Linked DNA regions of Homo sapiens. The protein of the gene in region 1 interacts with the protein of each later gene in a biochemical or structural test. Each region holds a gene or a part of one and is shown in the gene's direction. Other genes may lie near its edges. The genes, in order: NRP1, VEGFB, TGFBR1, SEMA3A and TGFBR2.

Region 1 (3,517 bases):
CATACTATTAAAGGGAATCTGCTTAGTGCTGCACTATTTAGCAAATCTTCACAAGAATGATAAGGCTTAATAGTTTAGTTGCAACTCCTTTACAAATTACCCACATCCATATCTACACTGCTGTAAAAATGTGTATTTCATGTAGTAACACAGTGTCTGTGATTTCTTCACTTCTCCATTCCAAAGTGAGAGTGATGATGGTGATGTTTTGGGATGTGAGAACAAACTCCACAGACTAAAACAAAGAAACGAAATTAAATTCAGTTCAACAAGTTCTAACGAAATTCAATTCGGTTCAACAAGTTCTAACTGACTACATACCATATGCAAAGCAGCATGCGGATGCTCCAGTGAAAGTACATGGCTGAGCCGGGTGCAGTGGCTCACGTCTGTCATCCCAGCACTTTGGGAGGCCGAGGCAGGAGGATCATTTGAGATCAGGAGTTTAGGACCAGCCTGGCCAACATGGCAAAACCCCATCTCTACTAAAAAATACAAAAATTAGCTGGGCGTGGTGGCACGCAGCTGTAGTAATCCCAGCTACTCGGAAGGCTGAGGCAGGAGAATTGCTTGAACCCAGGAGGCGGAAGTTGCAGTGAGCCAAGGTCATACCATTGCACTCCAGCCTAGGCCACAGAGCAAGACCCCATTTCAAAAAAAAGAAAAAAGAAGGAAGGAAGGAAGGGAGAAAAGAAAAGAAAGCACATAGTTGAGACAATTCTATGGGACTTTTTCTTTTCTTGTGATTTGTCCATTTAGCTGTAGTTGCTGCCAGACATTGTAGTGGGAAATTCACAACTACGGCTCCATTAAACCACTTTGTTTATTTGTTTATGCTGCTACCAATAAAAATATGTGTAAGACAATTGTACAATGATTCATCAAATATGCATCCTTGAACATCTGGGTGTGGATGCTATGAGATTATCAACTATTTATTAATCTTTCATTCATTCATACATAGAACAAATATCTATTAAAGCACCTATGATGTGCTAGACACTGTTGTAAATGCTGGAATACAGCAGTGGACAAAGCACTCAAAAATTCCTGCTCTGTACTTAGTACCACAGGAATACTGGAACTCTACTTCTTCAATAGCTATTTTATGTATTTATCTATTTTTGTAATACACAGGGCACAGTCTCTTGCCTCAAAGAGTTGGCATACTATTCGAGAAGCCAAACTAACGCACACTAAATTTAGGAAGCAGTTATCTACAAACTATAGGATGGTCACCATATGTACGAATCTACTTCAGTAGAACCTATATTCACCAGATTTTTTTCCACATTTCAGATGCCAAAACCATGTCTCTTCCCCCTTCTCTTCTTTTTTTTTTTTTTTAAATTTGTTGTTGTTGTTTTTGCTTTTTTGAGACAGGCTCTTGCTTCCGTCACCCAGGGTGGAGTGCAGTGGCACCATCATGGCTCACTGTAAACTCCATCTCCTGGGCACAAGCTCTCCTTCCGCCTCAGCCTCCTAAGCAGCTGGAAAGCTAATTTTTTTATTTTTGTAGAGATGGGATCTCACTATGTTGCCCAGGCTGGTCCTAAACTCCTAGCCTAATGTGGTTCTCCTGCCTTGCCCTCTCAAAGTGCTGGAATTATAGGCACGAGCCAGCATACCCAGCCCACCCTTGTCTCCTAAAACAACAGATTCTGCTAGCAGCAGTGCTACCTGGATTTAGATATGGCACCTTAAAGGCAGTGTTGTGATGTCACATTACCAATTTCCCGGTCATTTAACATTGCCTCTTTATTGATCTGTTTGGTGATTTCTGATTGAACTAAAAAATCCAAAAGGAGCCCAGTAGACACGTGTGTGTGTGTGTGTGTGTGTGTGTGTGCATGTACCTAAAGGTTTGTGTAGTTTGGTGCATTATATTTTGATGGCAGTTCAAATATCTCTTTCAATTTTGTTTGACTTGTCAGAACCAGCAGACCTGGATAAAAAGAACCCAGAAATTAAAATTGATGAAACAGGTAAATTTGTCTTGCTGACCAATTTTTAAAAAATTTTACTATGGCTTTCATTGTGTTTATGAAGAAACTTTGTGGAACTCTAATACACTGGTATGTCAAAAAGTTCAAATAAAAAACATCTATGCCCATGGCCCTGGGTTGGTGCTGTGGATCGGATTGTGCTCACAGAGTACCCACTTCCGAGCTGCCCATAAGACTTGGGGAGCCTCGGTGACGGGTCCTGCTTGTACACCTGGTTGAGCCTGGGAAGTGTGCTCACCCTGGCCCTTCCCTGCCCAGTCTAGAGGTGGAACATAAAGGATAATCAGCTCAAACACACTCAGTTTATCACTACAAAGACAGAAAATTAGTGAAGACTATTTCCATACACAGTTATTTGAAACCAACCGAAATTCTTCTGTTTGTTGATATCCAGCTAGGATCTTTAAGAGACCAGAGCCCAATTTCTGAGATAATCCATTGTGTTTGATTCATCTTTTCCCATCTTCCTCTACTAGAACCTTGGTTTTGTGATGATGATGATGATGATAAGAAGGATTTATTGAAGAGTTAGTATGTTCTGAGCACTTTACTTACCTGATCTTTTTCTTTTCTTTTTTTCTTGAGACAGAGTCTGTCTCTGTCACCCAGGCTTGGAGTGCAGTGGCGTGATCTCAGCTCACTGCAGCCTCCACCTGCCAGGTTCAAGCGATTTTCCTGCCTCAACCTTCCGAGCAGACTACAGGCCCACACCACCACACTCAACTTATTTTTTTGTCTTTTGTAAGGTGGAGTTTCACCATGTTGCCCAGGCTGGTCTTGAATTCCTTAGCTTAAGCAATTCCCTGGCCTCAGCCTCCTAAAGTGCTGGGATTACAGGCGTGAGCCACTGCACCCGTCCTACATACCTTATCTTATTTAATCCTCACAGCAGCTCTAGGGGTTGTATTTGTCCCCATTTTACAGATAGTGAGACTGAAACTTAAGTAGCATAGCTAATTAGGTGGTAGCCTCACACTTTAGCCTGATGAACTATAAATGTGTGTTTTTGCTGAACGCTGCTTTGTGATCAAATGCAAGACCTTTGATCAGAGTTAGGCCTTGCCTGGTATTAGTCTATTCCCAGAAGTTTCCAGATCTCCCAGCCAGCATTGTGGGCTGTTGGACACTTGCTCCACCATCACTCACAGCTGCTGTGTGGATGGTGCTGCACCCTTATCATCAATGCATGTCAGCATCTGTTGCCCTTAGAAATGGGATCCTACTCTATGGCCAGCCGTGGACTTCATAGAGACAAATAAATATTGCACCTTGCTGTTAGTAATATGAACACATTACCAAGTCCACACAGAGATGTAAACTTTATTAGAGGTTGTTTCAAAACAATATTTCATCAAGGGAGAGAGTATTAATATGCCCCAAGGCTTGTTTTCTCTTGGTTAGGGATTTGCATCTCATATTTTTAGTTTTCTTTGATTGGAATCTTTGTTGATCAGAACACCATTAAGTAAACCCCAGGCATATTGTGCGTTAACATTTTCATCCCGTTTCTA
Region 2 (4,109 bases), on another chromosome or scaffold:
CCAGGCTGCAGTGCAGTGGCGCAATCTCGGCTCACTGCAACCCCACCTCTGCCTCCCAGGTTCAAGCAATTCTTCTGTCTCAGCCTCCCGAGTAGCTGGGACTACAGGCGTCCACCACCACACCCGGCTAGTTGTTTTGTATTTTTAGTAGAGATGGGGTTTCACCATATTGGCCAGGCTGGTCTCAAACTCCTGACCTCAGGTGATCCACCCGCCTCAGCCTCCCAAAGTACTGGGATTACAGGTGAGAGCTACCGCGCCTGGCCACAAAGCCGATTTTCTATAGCAGATACCTAAAGGCCAGTGCCCACTGCTAGCAGCCTGCCTAGTTCAGTGATGGAGTTAGACGCATACCCTTTCTAGTCTTCTGGGAGGAGCACCCCCATGTCCACAGCTGCTGTCACACCTCAAAGTGACCAGGGACTTCGGATGCCATTGGACCCTAGACAAGCCAGGGCCACTCTGAGCCCTCCCTATCTATCACAGGAAGGGTTAGACTGAGGTTCCTAACCCTGTGTAAGGGTAAAAAGCTGTGAGGCCCCTAGAGTGGGGTGGAAGGGGGCAGGACTTCAGGGACAGCAGGAATTGGATTCCCAGGGTTAATTGTGACCCATTGCAGGAAGGTGAAGCAGATGCACCTTAACTTCATGGATGAAAAGGATCGGATCATCACAGCCTTCTACAACGAAGCCCGGGCACGGGCCAGGTCTGTCCCTGCTCTATTCTGCTCCCTGCTCCCTGTCCAGGAACCACACTTCGGGATCCCTATCCCAACCACCCAGGTGCCCTCTCCTCCAGGGCCAACAGAGGCATCCTTCAGCAGGAGCGACAACGGCTAGGGCAGCGGCAGCCGCCACCATCCGAGCCAACCCAAGGCCCCGAGATCGTGCCCCGGGGCGCCGGCCCCTGAGGGGCTCACCTGGATGGGGCCTGCAGTGCGTTCCCGCTTTGCTTCCTTCCCTGGACGGCCCGCTCCCCGAAACGCGCGCAATAAAGTGATTCGCAGAGCTCGTGTCCGGCTCCCTCCTTAAGGCCCGACGCCCCCGGCCCCGGCCTCGCCAAGGGGCAGCGCCCCGCCCTCCGGGTAGTGGCGGCGGCGACTGGGGAGCCCAGCCTCCTGGGCGGTGCGTCCCCTTTCCCCTGCCGCGGCGGGAGGCGGGAGGGGGTGTGTGGAGGAGGCGGGCCCCGCCGACGGCCTCGCCCCCCCACCCCGCCGCCCCGCCCCCGCCCCACGGGCCGGTGGGGAGCGCGTGTCTGGGTCACATGAGCCGCCTGCCCGCCAGCCCGGGCCCAGCCCCCCGCCGCCCCCGCCGTCCCCGCCGCCGCTGCCCGCCGCCACCGGCCGCCCGCCCGCCCGGCTCCTCCGGCCGCCTCCGCTGCGCTGCGCTGCGCTGCCTGCACCCAGGGCTCGGGAGGGGGCCGCGGAGGAGTCGCCCCCCGCGCCCGGCCCCCGCCCGCCGCGCCCGGGCCCGCGCCATGGGGCTCTGGCTGTCGCCGCCCCCCGCGCCGCCGGGCTAGGGCGATGCGGGCGCCCCCGGCGGGCGGCCCCGGCGGGCACCATGAGCCCTCTGCTCCGCCGCCTGCTGCTCGCCGCACTCCTGCAGCTGGCCCCCGCCCAGGTACGTGCGGCCCGACAGCGCGCCCGCCCGCCCGCCGTGCCCTCTCTCAAGGTTGGCGGAAGTGAGGAGGCGACCCGCGGCCTCGGCCGAGGGGATCTGCGGGGTCCGGCCTTGGACGCGGGCGTCTCGGGGGCCCGGCGCGTGCATCCCCTGGGAGGTGCCCCTCCCCGCTGGCCCGCCAGCCCCAGTCTGGGGCCACTCCTCCGCCCCACCCCGTCCCCTGGGCACCGCCGGGGGCGGGGCTCCCTCGGTGCCTGCAGGACCTGCTTCGGTGGGCACTGTGCGCGCTCCTGATCTGCATGCAGCCCCCAAACATGCTCGGCTCCGCGGCCTGGAGATTTGGCGCGGCCACCAGAGCACCTGTTGCGTTTTGGGCCAGGGCAGGTCCCGGGTGGCCAGGAGAGGACAGGTAAAGCTAGAGCAGTGGCCGCAGGAACAGAGCAATCTGGAAAGATGTCAGAGAGGTGGTGAAGCCTACTGATGCAAGGGCAAAGCCCCAGGGACGGTGACAGGGCCACACCCTCCTAAAGTGTACCTTGGGTACAGGTCTTTTCTCTCCCACAGGCCCCTGTCTCCCAGCCTGATGCCCCTGGCCACCAGAGGAAAGGTAATACTTACAAAAACTCGGCACTAGCCAGCACTAAGAGGGTTTGTCATGGGCCCTGATTCCAGGTGTCCATCATCTTGTGTAACTCCCCTAGAAGATTCAAACTATTATTCTACCCATTTCACAGAGGAGGAAATTGAGGCAGTGGGGTTACTGGGATCTGGATAAACAGGGCAGGGGAAGACAGGTTGTGAGGGCAGAGTGGGGAGGGCTAGTGGAGGGTGGCTGTGACTTGGGGACTGGGGAGGACAGATGCTGGGAGCAGCTGCAGGAAAACCAGTGAGGACTTAACCCCTACCGGTCTGCTCCCAGTGGTGTCATGGATAGATGTGTATACTCGCGCTACCTGCCAGCCCCGGGAGGTGGTGGTGCCCTTGACTGTGGAGCTCATGGGCACCGTGGCCAAACAGCTGGTGCCCAGCTGCGTGACTGTGCAGCGCTGTGGTGGCTGCTGCCCTGACGATGGCCTGGAGTGTGTGCCCACTGGGCAGCACCAAGTCCGGATGCAGGTACTGGGCAGGTGGGGCAACGGGCAGGGGATGCAGGTACTGGGCAGGTGGGGCAGCGGGCAGGGTGGATGCTGGCTGGCTCTGGGGCTGGGGCAGCCTGGAGACTGATGCACAGGAGACAGGGTTGGGGGGAGGGCTGGTGGCCAGCCTCCCGGCTGTTGGGTGAGCTTTTCTCCCTTCAGTCTTAGAGCATCCCCTTTCTCTCTCTCCCTCACTGTCCCCCCTGTTCTTCTCCTGAGCACAGATCCTCATGATCCGGTACCCGAGCAGTCAGCTGGGGGAGATGTCCCTGGAAGAACACAGCCAGTGTGAATGCAGGTGCCAGCCAGGCCCAACTTCTGAGCTCGCAGAGGCCAGGCTTGGGGGGTGCTGGGTATGGTGGTCCACAGAACTGGGGACCAGGTTCCTAAGAGTAGAACCAAGGGGCCGGGCGTGGTAGCTCACGCCTGTAATCCCAGCACTTTGGGAGGCCGAGGCGGGCGGATCATGAGGTCAGGAGATCGAGACCATCCTGGCTAACATGGTAAAAACCTGTCTCTACTAAAAAAATACAAAAAATTAGCCGGGCGTGGTGGCGGGCACCTGTAGTCCCAGCTACTCCGGAGGCTGAGGCAGGAGAATGGCATGAACCTGGGAGGCGTAGCTTGCAGTGAGCCAAGATCGTGCCACTGCATTCCAGCCTGGGCGACAGAGCAAGACTCTGCCACAAAAAAAAAAAAAAAAAAAAAAAAAAAAGAGTAGAGCCAAGGGTAGGCCTTGGATCTGGGGCAACAAAGTAGGATGCTTGGGCCGGGGGTAGTGGCTCACACCTATAATCCCAGCACTTTGGGAGGCCCAGGCAGGCAGATCACCTGAGGTAAGGCGTTTGAGACCAGCCTGGCCAACATGGTGAAACCCCATCTCTACTAAAAAAAAATACAAAAATTAGCCGCGCATGGTGGCAGGTGCCTGTAATCCCAGCTACTTGGGAGGCTGAGACAAGAGAATAGCTTGAACCTGGGAGGCGGAGGTTGCAGTGAGCCGAGACCACGCCACTGCACTCCAGCCTGGGCAAGAAGAGGGAAACACAGTCTCAAAGAGAGAGAGAGAGAGAGAGAGAGAGAGAGAGAGAGAGTAGGATGCTGGGATTTCCTGATCTTCCTCTTGTTTGTCTGTGTCTGTCTATCTTACTTTTCAGACCTAAAAAAAAGGACAGTGCTGTGAAGCCAGACAGGTGAGTCTTTTGGACTCCAGCTGAGTAGGGGTATGGGGAGTACAAGTGAGTCCAGAAGCTGTTGCTCCTCTTTCTCCTCCCACCCGTCCCCCACTTTCCCTTTTCCTCTGCTCCCCAAGCCTGTGTTCTCTGCCCCGACCCCAGCTCTAGGGAAGACTCTT
Region 3 (3,517 bases), on another chromosome or scaffold:
ACTGGAGATATTTAAAACAAATTTTTTAGATGAGAACATTTTATCTTTCAGTTCAAAATTTCAGGTAGAGCTAGGAATCTGGAAATTTGTTTAGAGATTCTCTAGTCGTTGTAACAAAACTGTGATTTTTTTTGAGTTCTTAAAAGTAGCATTCAATCTTATGATTTTTGAGGATCTCAGTTTCAGAATTCAGGTCCAACTGAATATATTTTTATGTGTAGTATCAAATGAAATGTGAAAGTGCTTTGTAAACATCAACATGCTAGGTAACTGTTATCTGGCCATCTAATAATTATATTTGACCTTGAGATAAGGAGACTGCATGAGATAGTTTTACAGTTGAAAAATTAAATACTAAGTTTTAGTTATGACATTTGTATGCTGTAGTTTTTGTGCATGTGGGATTTCAGATGCCAGTATATCTCTCTGCTCTAGCAGTTGTCCACTTGCAACCCAATGGCTCCCCCACTCCCCACTTTACATACAGCATAAGTGCTAGTTCACATCTTAGCTCCATCTTTGTAGTTATTATTATTATTGATTGTAACAGTTTTATTGAGTTATAATTCACATCATAAAGTTCACCCACTTAAAGTGTAAAATTCAGTGGTTTTTAGAATACTCAGAGTTGTACAGCCAGCAAACACTACAGTCAATTTTAGAATATCTTCACTCCAAAGAGAAACCCTGTAGCCACTAGCAGTCACTCCCCTTTCCTCCCAAACTCCTTAGCCCTAGGCAACAACTGCTCCTTTTTGTCTGTAGATTTGCTTATTCTGCACATTTTATATAAATGAATCATACAATATGTGGTCTTTTGTGACTGGCTTCTTTCACTTAGCATGTTTTCAAGGTTCATTTATGTTGTAGCACGTATGAGTACTTCAGTCATTTTGATGGCTAAGTAATACTTCAGTGTATGGATATGGCATATGTCATATATCCGTTCGTTGATGGACATTTGGTTTGTTTCTTTTGGCCATTGTAGCTAATGCTGCAGTGAACATTTGTGTACAAGTTGTATGTAGTTTCATGTTTTCAGTTATCTTGGGTATATACCTAGGAGTTGAATTACTGTATCATATGATAACTCTATTTAATGGTTTGAAGAACTGCCATACTATTTTCTTAAAGTGCCTGAACCATTTTACATTCCTGCCAGCAGTGTATGAAGGTTCCAGGTTTTCCACATTATAATTATTATTTTTTAATAACATTTTCTAGTGGTTAGCATCAAAGATAATATACTTAATACTGAGTACATTGCAGTTGATAGGGAAGTGATGTTCTACATGCTTGGTTCCTGGGCTGCTGGAATATCAGTCTATGGCTAAGTTTCTTAAAAAGAATTCATAAGGCACCAACAGATAAACTGATAACTTTTTTTTTGCCCCAGTCTTTGAGTTGTTCATCTTTTAAAGCATGTTATTGTCCACATTTTCTTTAAAGAAATATAAATTCAGTGACTTTTGGTGTAGTGATTCACTTGAGTTTAATAATGCCGTAAGTATTGTAGGTCATGTGGGCTGAAATGCTTTGATAATTTGGGTTGGGAGAAGAGACTTTTGAACCTAAAGATGTGAGTTGTGATTGGTATTACCTTTTAAGCAGTCATGTTTAATTTTTGATTCTTTAGGAAAGCCAGCCATTGCTCATAGAGATTTGAAATCAAAGAATATCTTGGTAAAGAAGAATGGAACTTGCTGTATTGCAGACTTAGGACTGGCAGTAAGACATGATTCAGCCACAGATACCATTGATATTGCTCCAAACCACAGAGTGGGAACAAAAAGGTATACTTTTGAACAACTATATTTAATATCTTCTGAAATCACCTTTTTTCCCTTCTCTTTCATATATACATATCATTGCTGAAACTCAGCTTAAACTTGCACTTTATTAGATTGCCAACAGGTAAGAAGATCTCATGGTCTTGCCTGCTCTGAAGCCAGAGTTACCTGACTTAAAAAGATGCCTGCTGATGAAAGGTTGCCCTTCCAGAAAATATCATTAGGCATGTTAATTATAATAACAGTAGTAACTAACGTTTATAGGGCACCTACTATGTGCCAATCGTCTAATAGGTCTTTTACGTATATTACCTCATTTAATCCCTTCTCAAATACTGTGCAGTAGCTAGCCCTGCTATTTTCATATTTCAGTTCCTAAAAATATGCCTTTCTTGCTTTCTTAGAACTTTTGCACATGCTGTCTCCTGGAGCATACTTTACCCTACTGTTTCTCAGCCTCATACCCACCTTTCCCGTAGGAAGTTTTTTCTAGTCCTCAAAAATCTTAGGAGTCCCTGCCAGGGACTGTCATAGCACACTGAACTGGGACCGTTGAGGCACTTATGCGTTATGTTGTAACTGTTTATTTATTTGCCTATATATTCTATTAGGTGCAAGCTGCTTGAGAGCAGCCTTGTATTCCCAGCATCCATCACAGTGCCTAATACATGGTAGATCCTCAGTAGATATTTGTTGAGTCCATGAGTCTTCAAAAGAACTTAATTAGGTAGGTGTTATTACCCTTTAATTCACAGATGAGGAAACCACCTTGAGGAGGTTAAATAATATGGCCAGCTTCATGTGGATGATAAGCCGAAGAGCTGAGATTTGAACCTGGGCATTTCTGACCCAAACCCCTTATCACAAGCTGTCACAGCATTTTTTCAAACTACTGTCTTGGCCTTGGAGACAGCTGGAGAGCCAGCAGCATTAGTCTATTCAAATTGCATGTATAATTTTGAGATTTCTGGATTCCCTGGGGACTCTCAATTTTCCCATCCAAGTACTAAGCAGGCCCGACCCTGCTTAGCTTCCAAGATCAGACGAGATCGGGCGTGTTTAGGGTGGTATGGCCGTAGATGACTCTCAATTCTCAACCAGCTAAGGGGTCCTTGTCAGTGGTTGCTGTAGGTCTCTGTGGGTCCTGACCCATAATTTTGGTAGGTTTTTGAAGCTTCAGTATGAGGACTGGCATTCTTTTGTATCTATTATTTTTTTCCCTGGAGTATATTCGTGCCCTTCCTTTCATCCTCAGTGAGAAGACTTCTAAATTAAAATGCATGGTTTCTACCTAGTACGTGTATAGGTGGTGTACATTAGGACACCTTTAACAGTCACAATTGTTATGTATGTCTTTCATTGGAAACCAAGATCATGAGGCAGATAGTGTGAAACTGCTATTTTAGCATTTTGTGGGATTTAGTTGACATCATTAATGTGCAAACCAGTGTGGATATTTAATATTTTTCTTGAGTCTAATATTTGTTATGTAATATTGTGTACATATGTCTATGTATAAAGAAATGTCTGAAAGGAGGTTCATCCAAATATGGCAGTAAGGGGATGATTTTCAAAGTTCTTTTTGCAAATTTTTTTTAGGTACATGGCCCCTGAAGTTCTCGATGATTCCATAAATATGAAACATTTTGAATCCTTCAAACGTGCTGACATCTATGCAATGGGCTTAGTATTCTGGGAAATTGCTCGACGATGTTCCATTGGTGGTA
Region 4 (3,517 bases), on another chromosome or scaffold:
ACAAAATTTTTAAAATTGATAGTTTTTTGTTTGTTTGTTTTGAGACTGAGTCTTGCTCTGTCACCCAGGCTAGAGTGCAATGGGTCGATCTTGGCTCACTGCAACCTCCGCTTCCCAGATTCAAGCGCTTCTCCTGCCTCAGCCTCCAGAGTAGCTGGGATTGTAGGTACCCGCCATTATGCCCCACTAATTTTTTGTATTTTTGTAGAAATGGGGTTTCACCATGTTGGCCAGGCCGTTCTTGAACCCTAGACCTCAAGTGATCCGTCCACCTCAGCCTTCCAAAGTGCTGGGATTACAGGCGTGAGCCACCATGCCCGGCAAAATTGACAGTATGTTTGACATCCCAAGAAAAAGTGAAGAACTTAATAAGGTTATAAGATAGGAACCGAAATATTATTTCTGTTCGTACTTTTTTCTGGAGCTGGGGAGAGAAGGGGGCTGGAGGGAGATAGAACACATTGTTAATGGATTTCTAATGTTTCCTATATTGTACAAAATTTATGCCAGTGGTTGCGGTAGAGCACTCAGGAAATGGAAAGGATATTTATTGAATGCCTTCTAATTATTATTTTAAAATATTGATTAGGTATCTGTTTATAAGATGTCAGGTTAGGGGAAATTAACAGAAAATTTTTTACTTCTGAACACCCAAATAGATGGGTGCTTGGCTGAGGCCATTTTAAATAAAAGTTCTGTTCCTAAGTCAGAAGCTGCTGATGGTAGAAACATCCTGTGGCAGAAGACTTAATAGAAATAACTGTATCCAATAAAAATTTACTTTTGGCCGGGCGCGGTGGCTCATGCCTGTAATCCCAGCACTTTGAGAGGCCGAGGCGGGCGAATCACCTGAGGTCGGGAGTTCAAGACCAGCCTAACCAACATGGAGAAACCCTGTCTCTACTAAAAATACAAAATTAGCTGGGCGTGGTGGCGCATGCCTGTAATCCCAGCTACTAGGGAGTCTGAGGCAGGAGAATCGCTTGAACCCGGGAGGCGGAGGTTGCCGTGAGCCGAGATCACGCCATTGCACTCCAGCCTGGGCAACAATAGGGAAACTCCGTCTCAAAAAAAAAAAGAAAAAAAATTTACTTTTAATAATTATTGCTGATCGCAGCAGAACCTAACAAAATATAAAATAGGAGAATCTTAAACCAAAGAAATACAATAGTATCGCTGTATCTTGATCGTGATTGATAGTTAACATGACAGGGCTTTTAGCCTCACCGGTCACTAGCTGGATGATTCTGTTTCTTTTTGTTGGACAAAAAGGGGAAAGAAAGGGTAAACTTGGGAAATAATGAGACTTTGAGGTACTGGCAAGAGTAGTTATCAAAGCAAACTTACTAAGGGCACCAAGCTCATAAACCAAATTAACCTATTGTGGTTCTTGCCTTATTTAGGTGAGAAAGTACCTGAATATCAGAATGTTTCTTGAAGAGAGTGAAATATTAGTATATTAAACTAAAAACAATTTGTTATCATAATTGCTAAATCAAACACCATCTTATAGTCTATAAGTCTATAAGACTATAGTCTATAGTCTAGATTCCACTATGAAGAAGTAGCAGATCAAATGAAATAATTTTTTAATAAAAGAATATTTTCTATTGAAAGAACTATTTTTACATGTTTTCTGGTACATTGGAAAAAGCTTGCCACCACCAGAGGATGTCCTGAAGAGGAAATGAAAACTGAGCAGTTACCTAGAACTACAAGAAAGATTACCAGAAAATTATCTCTGTGGACTAACTAGAATGATTAAATTAGTTAGAAAGAAGACAACTAAGTGATTTTTTTTTAATGCACCCATTGGTGGCTGGGCGCGGTGGCTCACACCTGTAATCCCAGCACTTTGGGAGGCTGAGGTGGGCGGATCACGAGGTCAGGAGATCGAGACCATCCTGGCTAACACGTTGAAACCCTGCCTCTATTAAAATACGAAAAACTAGCTGGGCGTGGTGGCAGGCACCTGTAGTCCCAGCTACTTGGGAGGCTGAGGCAGGAGAATGGCATGAACCCGGGAGGCGGAGCTTGCAGTGAGCCGAGATCGCACCACTGAACTCCAGCCTGGGAGACAGAGTAAGACTCCGTCTCAAAAAAAAAAAAAAAAAAAAAAAAAAAAAAAATATATATATATATATATATATATATATATATATATATATGCACCCATTGGTGTTACATTGGTATTGAAACACTTTTATTTTCTATTATACTAGTTACGTGACTCCTCTTATCTGAGTCAATTAATGTATTGAAGGATTTATATGAAATTCTATCTTTGAGAGTAGTAATTTATACCATAGTTTTCTTTAGTAGCTTTAGCAGATTATGCAAGAGACAAGTCAGTTGCAGTTATAAATTTCTACCTGGGAAAATAGACCTAGGAGACATGGCTGTTGATAAAGGAGATGCTGGCAGATCACTGGGTTGTTTGTTTCTAAATCCAGTGGATTTTTCTATATTTTGATGTCATATATAATTCATTCATATATAGAGATTGAATGAAAGGTCTCCTCCTAAAAGTATTTCTTAATAAAGAAAAGTTTAAACGGGCCGGACGCGGTGGCTCATGCCTGTAATCCCAGCACTTTGGGAGGCCGAGGCGGGCGGATCACGAGGTCAGGAGATCGGGACCATGCTGGCTAAAATGGCGAAACCCCATCTCTACTAAAAATACAAAAAAAAAAAAATACAAAAAAGTTTAAATCACAGAACAGTTAGAAAAAAAAGTATTCAATGTAAATAGCATTAACTTCTGTGACAATGCATTCTAATTATTCAGGTAGCTCCTGAATTACAGATTTTCCAGCCCCTGTTGGCCATAGCAATTAAATTCACCTGTATCCCAGGAAGCAGCTATCTTACAAATGAGTATAGCAACATGTTCCATATGCATTCAATTCAAGACGCACTAATAATCTCAGAGGGGAAAAAAAAACAGCCTATACAATATAGATATTGGCACATGAAGATATGCATGTCCAATTTTTTTTAAATGTGACTTGGAATCAGTTAAATATTATTTCTTTACATTGCAATCATTTCTGATTTATTTTCCTATTTCCAGGGCATTGATCTTTTCAATAAGAGACAGATAATTCCCAATATTGGAAGAGTTTTGTTTCACACCTAGGGCATTTGAGAAACAGGCACTGAGGTTGACACCTCTGTAGACAGCAATTGAAGGTAGAAGGTGGAATGAAGTAGGTAGGGTATGATGAGGGTAGGAGATGATAGACACAGGCCTTGTACAGGGATTGTATGGGAGTAGCATTTTTGAAGGCTTTAAACCTAGTGAGAGCAAATCATCAGCTATGACAGTCAAAGGTATTCAGTTGATTATGACAAGAGTAAAACTGTCAAAGTGATGACAAAAAAGGGGAAAACATTTTTTAAATTAAAAATCTAGCTGAGTTTGAAGTAGAGAGCAAAAATTTTTCATCTGTCTACACTGTCAGCTTTCTGTGCATGTAAAACATATTTATTATTTTCTAAATTAATTTAATGAGTT
Region 5 (3,517 bases), on another chromosome or scaffold:
CCTTTTCAAAATGTCATCTTGCCATGAAAGCTTCTTCAATTCGTTACCTAGAAGTGCAAATGTATTGAAAGTTTTACTCATTAAATAAGATTATTTTGAAGCTAAAGGCCAAAGATCCTACTTACTTTGGAGAACAGTGTTGAATCCAGCCCAATCTCTCCTTTCAGCCCAGGCATGTTTTAGTACTGGGATGTTTTCTATCTTTTTAAGTGTCCTGTGCTCTGTTTACACTATATTAATCTGCTCATTTAAATTGGTGTTTTGTTTTAATGTTTGGCCAGAGTTTATGCACTGCCACTTTGGAGAGAATCTAAGATTCATTCATTCATTCATTCATTCACTCACTCAACAAAGCATTTGTTGACAGCCTGTTGGCATGGGAGACCCTTGCAATTGGCACCAAGAATACAAGAATGAGAAAGGGACTCAACTTGCACCCAAATGCTCACAGTCCAGTTAGGTGAGAAAAATAAGCAGGTGAATATATTAAATAAAATATGGTATATGCACGAATAGAGCCCTGCCCAGGATATCTAACCAAGATTGACCCTAAGGATGTTCAAGGAAGTTTTTATAAAGAATTTGACCTTAGTTGAAGCCTGAGGCCCCGGTGAAGGGTTACCTCCTCCTTTATCATTTTCTTTATTGAATATACCATCAGAGGAAAATTATCGTTTTAAAATTTTGTTGATGTTGTTAATCTGTCCCCTCTGTCTTCCCACTAAAACAGCATTTCTCAACCTTTTTTAAAATCAGTGATATCGTAAGGAGCCTTTTTAAACAACTTTTTTTGTTTGCTTGTTTTGTTTTTTATTTTGTATAGATAGAGGATCTCGCTATGTTGCCCAGGTTGGTCTCAAACTCCCGGAGTCAAGATATCCTCCTTCAGCCTCCTAAAGTGCTGGGATTACACACATGAGCCACAGCACCTGGCCTGTAGACAACTTTTTTTCTAAACACTACTCTCCATGATGTTTTTCTGTAGCAAAATAGGCATAATATAAAATGTACCATCTTAACCATTTTTAAGTGTACAGTTTACTGGCATTAAGTACCTTCGCAGTGCTCTACAACCATCACCATTATTCATTTTTCTGTACTGAAATTTGCTCAACTGAAATTCTTTACCCCTTAAAGGATAACTTTTCGTACCCTTTCCTCCCAGGTTGCCCCCTGGACAACCACCATTATACTGTCTCTGAATATACCTGTACAAGGTACTTCATACAAGTGGAATGATACAATATTTGTCCTTTTGTGTCTGGCTTATTTCACTTAGCATAATGTCTTCAAGATTCATCCATGTTGTAGCATGTGCCAGAGTTTCATTCCTTTTTATGCCTCAATACCTACATGAAATTTAATACCACATTTTAAATCTCTTTGTATACTCTGGGCCTTTGGAGGCTCACAAACCATTGTAATACATAAGATTTTTCCACTTCCCAAGAACCAGTTTCACCCTTTTGCTGCAATATCCCCCTGTAGAAAATGCCTGTGTTAAAACCTAAGCTCCGTGACCCTCTCTATCTTGTTGTCCACTGTGTCCCCCAGCGTAACACCTAGCACATTTTAAGTACTCAACAATCATTTATTGAATACTTCTCTAGCCCTTCCCCAACCACTCCTTCCTTCTTATCTTAGCCATTATTATTAAAATTTGCTCTTAGAGTAATTACGTATGTATTTGTTACTTAGTGCTTCATGCTCCCCAGCCAGGCATCTCACCATGCTCATTTCCTTTGGCTGCACATGCCATTCTCAGTGACCCTGTGTTTGCTGGCTTTCTTCACAGAAGTAAAAGATTATGAGCCTCCATTTGGTTCCAAGGTGCGGGAGCACCCCTGTGTCGAAAGCATGAAGGACAACGTGTTGAGAGATCGAGGGCGACCAGAAATTCCCAGCTTCTGGCTCAACCACCAGGTAAGGAGTGAGTGTTTACAAAGGTCAGTAAGATTCAACCAAGTTGCCTCTTAGGTGGCAGAGAATTCTGGAATATTGAGCTTAAATCTGAGGGAAGGTCCCATTGTGTTCTATGGCCCTGTTAAATTTTGTTTATAAAGCAAATTTCAATACAGTGGATAACCCAATTATTATAGGCTCCAACCAGCTGATATGTACTCTGAGAGTTCACAAATAGCCATTCGGAGGACATTTGCCACATTTTCCAAGCCCCCTTGGTCCTGGGTTAAAACATTTTGTTTGCAGCCTCTGCTACTTACTCCTGGGCCTTCACGTCAGGAGTTTATATTTGATTCCCTCTGGATTCCAAATGTTTTCTTCTGGGAATCTTCAGCTCCATAAGGAAATACTTAGCAGATGCAAAACAAGCAGGGTTTGTCAGGCAGCTGTAGTGAGAAGTGACTGTGGCATGCAGAAGGCTGTGTACAGGTGTTTGCAGGCTGTGCTCACAGACTTGGGAGAGGCCTGAGTGAGCACGCGTGGGAAAGAGGAGACCGACTCCTCACTCTGGAATTAAGGAAAGCAAAGAAGAGGAGAATGCCCTGGAAGGAACGAGAAATCTGTCTGTTGGGAACATCCTAATGGCCTCTTATTTTTCCTTGTTAAGAAATGCTAGCTAAGGCTGTCCATAGCAGGGCAGTCATTCTGGACTCATAAAGAGGCTGATCCAAATTGTTTGTTTGGGGGCACTTTGATGAGGGCAATGGTCAGAGAAAAAAGAAAACGATAGGTTGTGAGTGAGTCAGAACCAGCTATATGTCTGACACACCCAGGAAGGAGCCCTTAGTGAAGAATGAGAGAGAACAGTGTGGCCCTATCTCACTGAGAAGACTGTTCTTTCTACTGACTAAAACCTTTTATTGCCTCTTTTGGATGAATTCCCTCAACCATGAAGGCCGAGGCTAAGTTGTTGGTTTCCCTAAGGGCAAGGCAAATTCAGATAAGAAACAGAAACAACAAATCAGGCACAATCGGGAAGACAAATGGAGCAGGAAGTCTGGTCTGTGCCAGTCCTGGCCCAGAGCCACTTCAGCAGACAGACCTTAATAAAGTCCGAGGAGGTTGGCGAGGGGGAACCAGGCTGTGGTGGGTCACAGGCTTCTCTGGAGTTTTGAGCAAATCCTCTTTGACACTAAAACTGTAAGAATATTTTGCATAAATTCTGAAATCAGAATGTGCTGGAGTGTTATGTTTCTTTCAAACTCTGTTGCCTCCTCTGCTGTATAGTTCTCGTAATGATGCCATTATTCATGATGATAAAATTCTGAAAAGAATTTGCATAATACATTTTTTCTCATAATGAGATTTGTTGCCCTATTGATTTCAAGTTAATGCTTAATATTTAATTTAATTTACTGCCTGTAATTACAGTGCCAGAATAAAATAAATGTTACTTGTGTACCAACAATAGCACTCTACTCTTAACAGGGCCATCTGTCAATACTGTCAATTAGGTGAATTATGCAATTAATTTAACATCATGAACTCATCGGGTGGGGAGGGAGAGATAGGCTCCTAGGTGTGTTTGGAAAGTTGTTGGTATTAGAAAACAAGT

Evidence for each region.
Region 2: the proteins of NRP1 (region 1) and VEGFB form a complex in vitro, tested with the Homo sapiens proteins (one study listed by BioGRID).
Region 3: the proteins of NRP1 (region 1) and TGFBR1 form a complex in vitro, tested with the Homo sapiens proteins (one study listed by BioGRID).
Region 4: the proteins of NRP1 (region 1) and SEMA3A form a complex in vitro, tested with the Homo sapiens proteins (one study listed by BioGRID).
Region 5: the proteins of NRP1 (region 1) and TGFBR2 form a complex in vitro, tested with the Homo sapiens proteins (one study listed by BioGRID).

The regions. Positions count from the first base shown.
Region 1 is NC_000010.11:33,181,166-33,184,682, reverse strand, and holds part of NRP1 (neuropilin-1 isoform a precursor), read left to right. Parts: intron 1-1,934; coding exon 1,935-1,985; intron 1,986-3,517. UniProt on the Homo sapiens protein: Cell-surface receptor involved in the development of the cardiovascular system, in angiogenesis, in the formation of certain neuronal circuits and in organogenesis outside the nervous system. Mediates the chemorepulsant activity of semaphorins.
Region 2 is NC_000011.10:64,233,275-64,237,383, forward strand, and holds the start of VEGFB (vascular endothelial growth factor B isoform VEGFB-186 precursor), read left to right. Parts: upstream 1-1,309; 5' UTR 1,310-1,559; coding exon 1,560-1,619; intron 1,620-2,183; coding exon 2,184-2,226; intron 2,227-2,538; coding exon 2,539-2,735; intron 2,736-2,979; coding exon 2,980-3,053; intron 3,054-3,912; coding exon 3,913-3,948; intron 3,949-4,109. Other genes in the region: DNAJC4 (dnaJ homolog subfamily C member 4), read left to right, coding at 620-839. UniProt on the Homo sapiens protein: Growth factor for endothelial cells. VEGF-B167 binds heparin and neuropilin-1 whereas the binding to neuropilin-1 of VEGF-B186 is regulated by proteolysis.
Region 3 is NC_000009.12:99,143,096-99,146,612, forward strand, and holds part of TGFBR1 (TGF-beta receptor type-1 isoform 1 precursor), read left to right. Parts: intron 1-1,636; coding exon 1,637-1,793; intron 1,794-2,401; exon of another isoform or gene 2,402-2,517; intron 2,518-3,389; coding exon 3,390-3,514; intron 3,515-3,517. UniProt on the Homo sapiens protein: Transmembrane serine/threonine kinase forming with the TGF-beta type II serine/threonine kinase receptor, TGFBR2, the non-promiscuous receptor for the TGF-beta cytokines TGFB1, TGFB2 and TGFB3.
Region 4 is NC_000007.14:83,964,279-83,967,795, reverse strand, and holds part of SEMA3A (semaphorin-3A precursor), read left to right. Parts: intron 1-3,517. UniProt on the Homo sapiens protein: Involved in the development of the olfactory system and in neuronal control of puberty. Induces the collapse and paralysis of neuronal growth cones. Could serve as a ligand that guides specific growth cones by a motility-inhibiting mechanism.
Region 5 is NC_000003.12:30,686,589-30,690,105, forward strand, and holds part of TGFBR2 (TGF-beta receptor type-2 isoform B precursor), read left to right. Parts: intron 1-1,795; coding exon 1,796-1,923; intron 1,924-3,517. UniProt on the Homo sapiens protein: Transmembrane serine/threonine kinase forming with the TGF-beta type I serine/threonine kinase receptor, TGFBR1, the non-promiscuous receptor for the TGF-beta cytokines TGFB1, TGFB2 and TGFB3.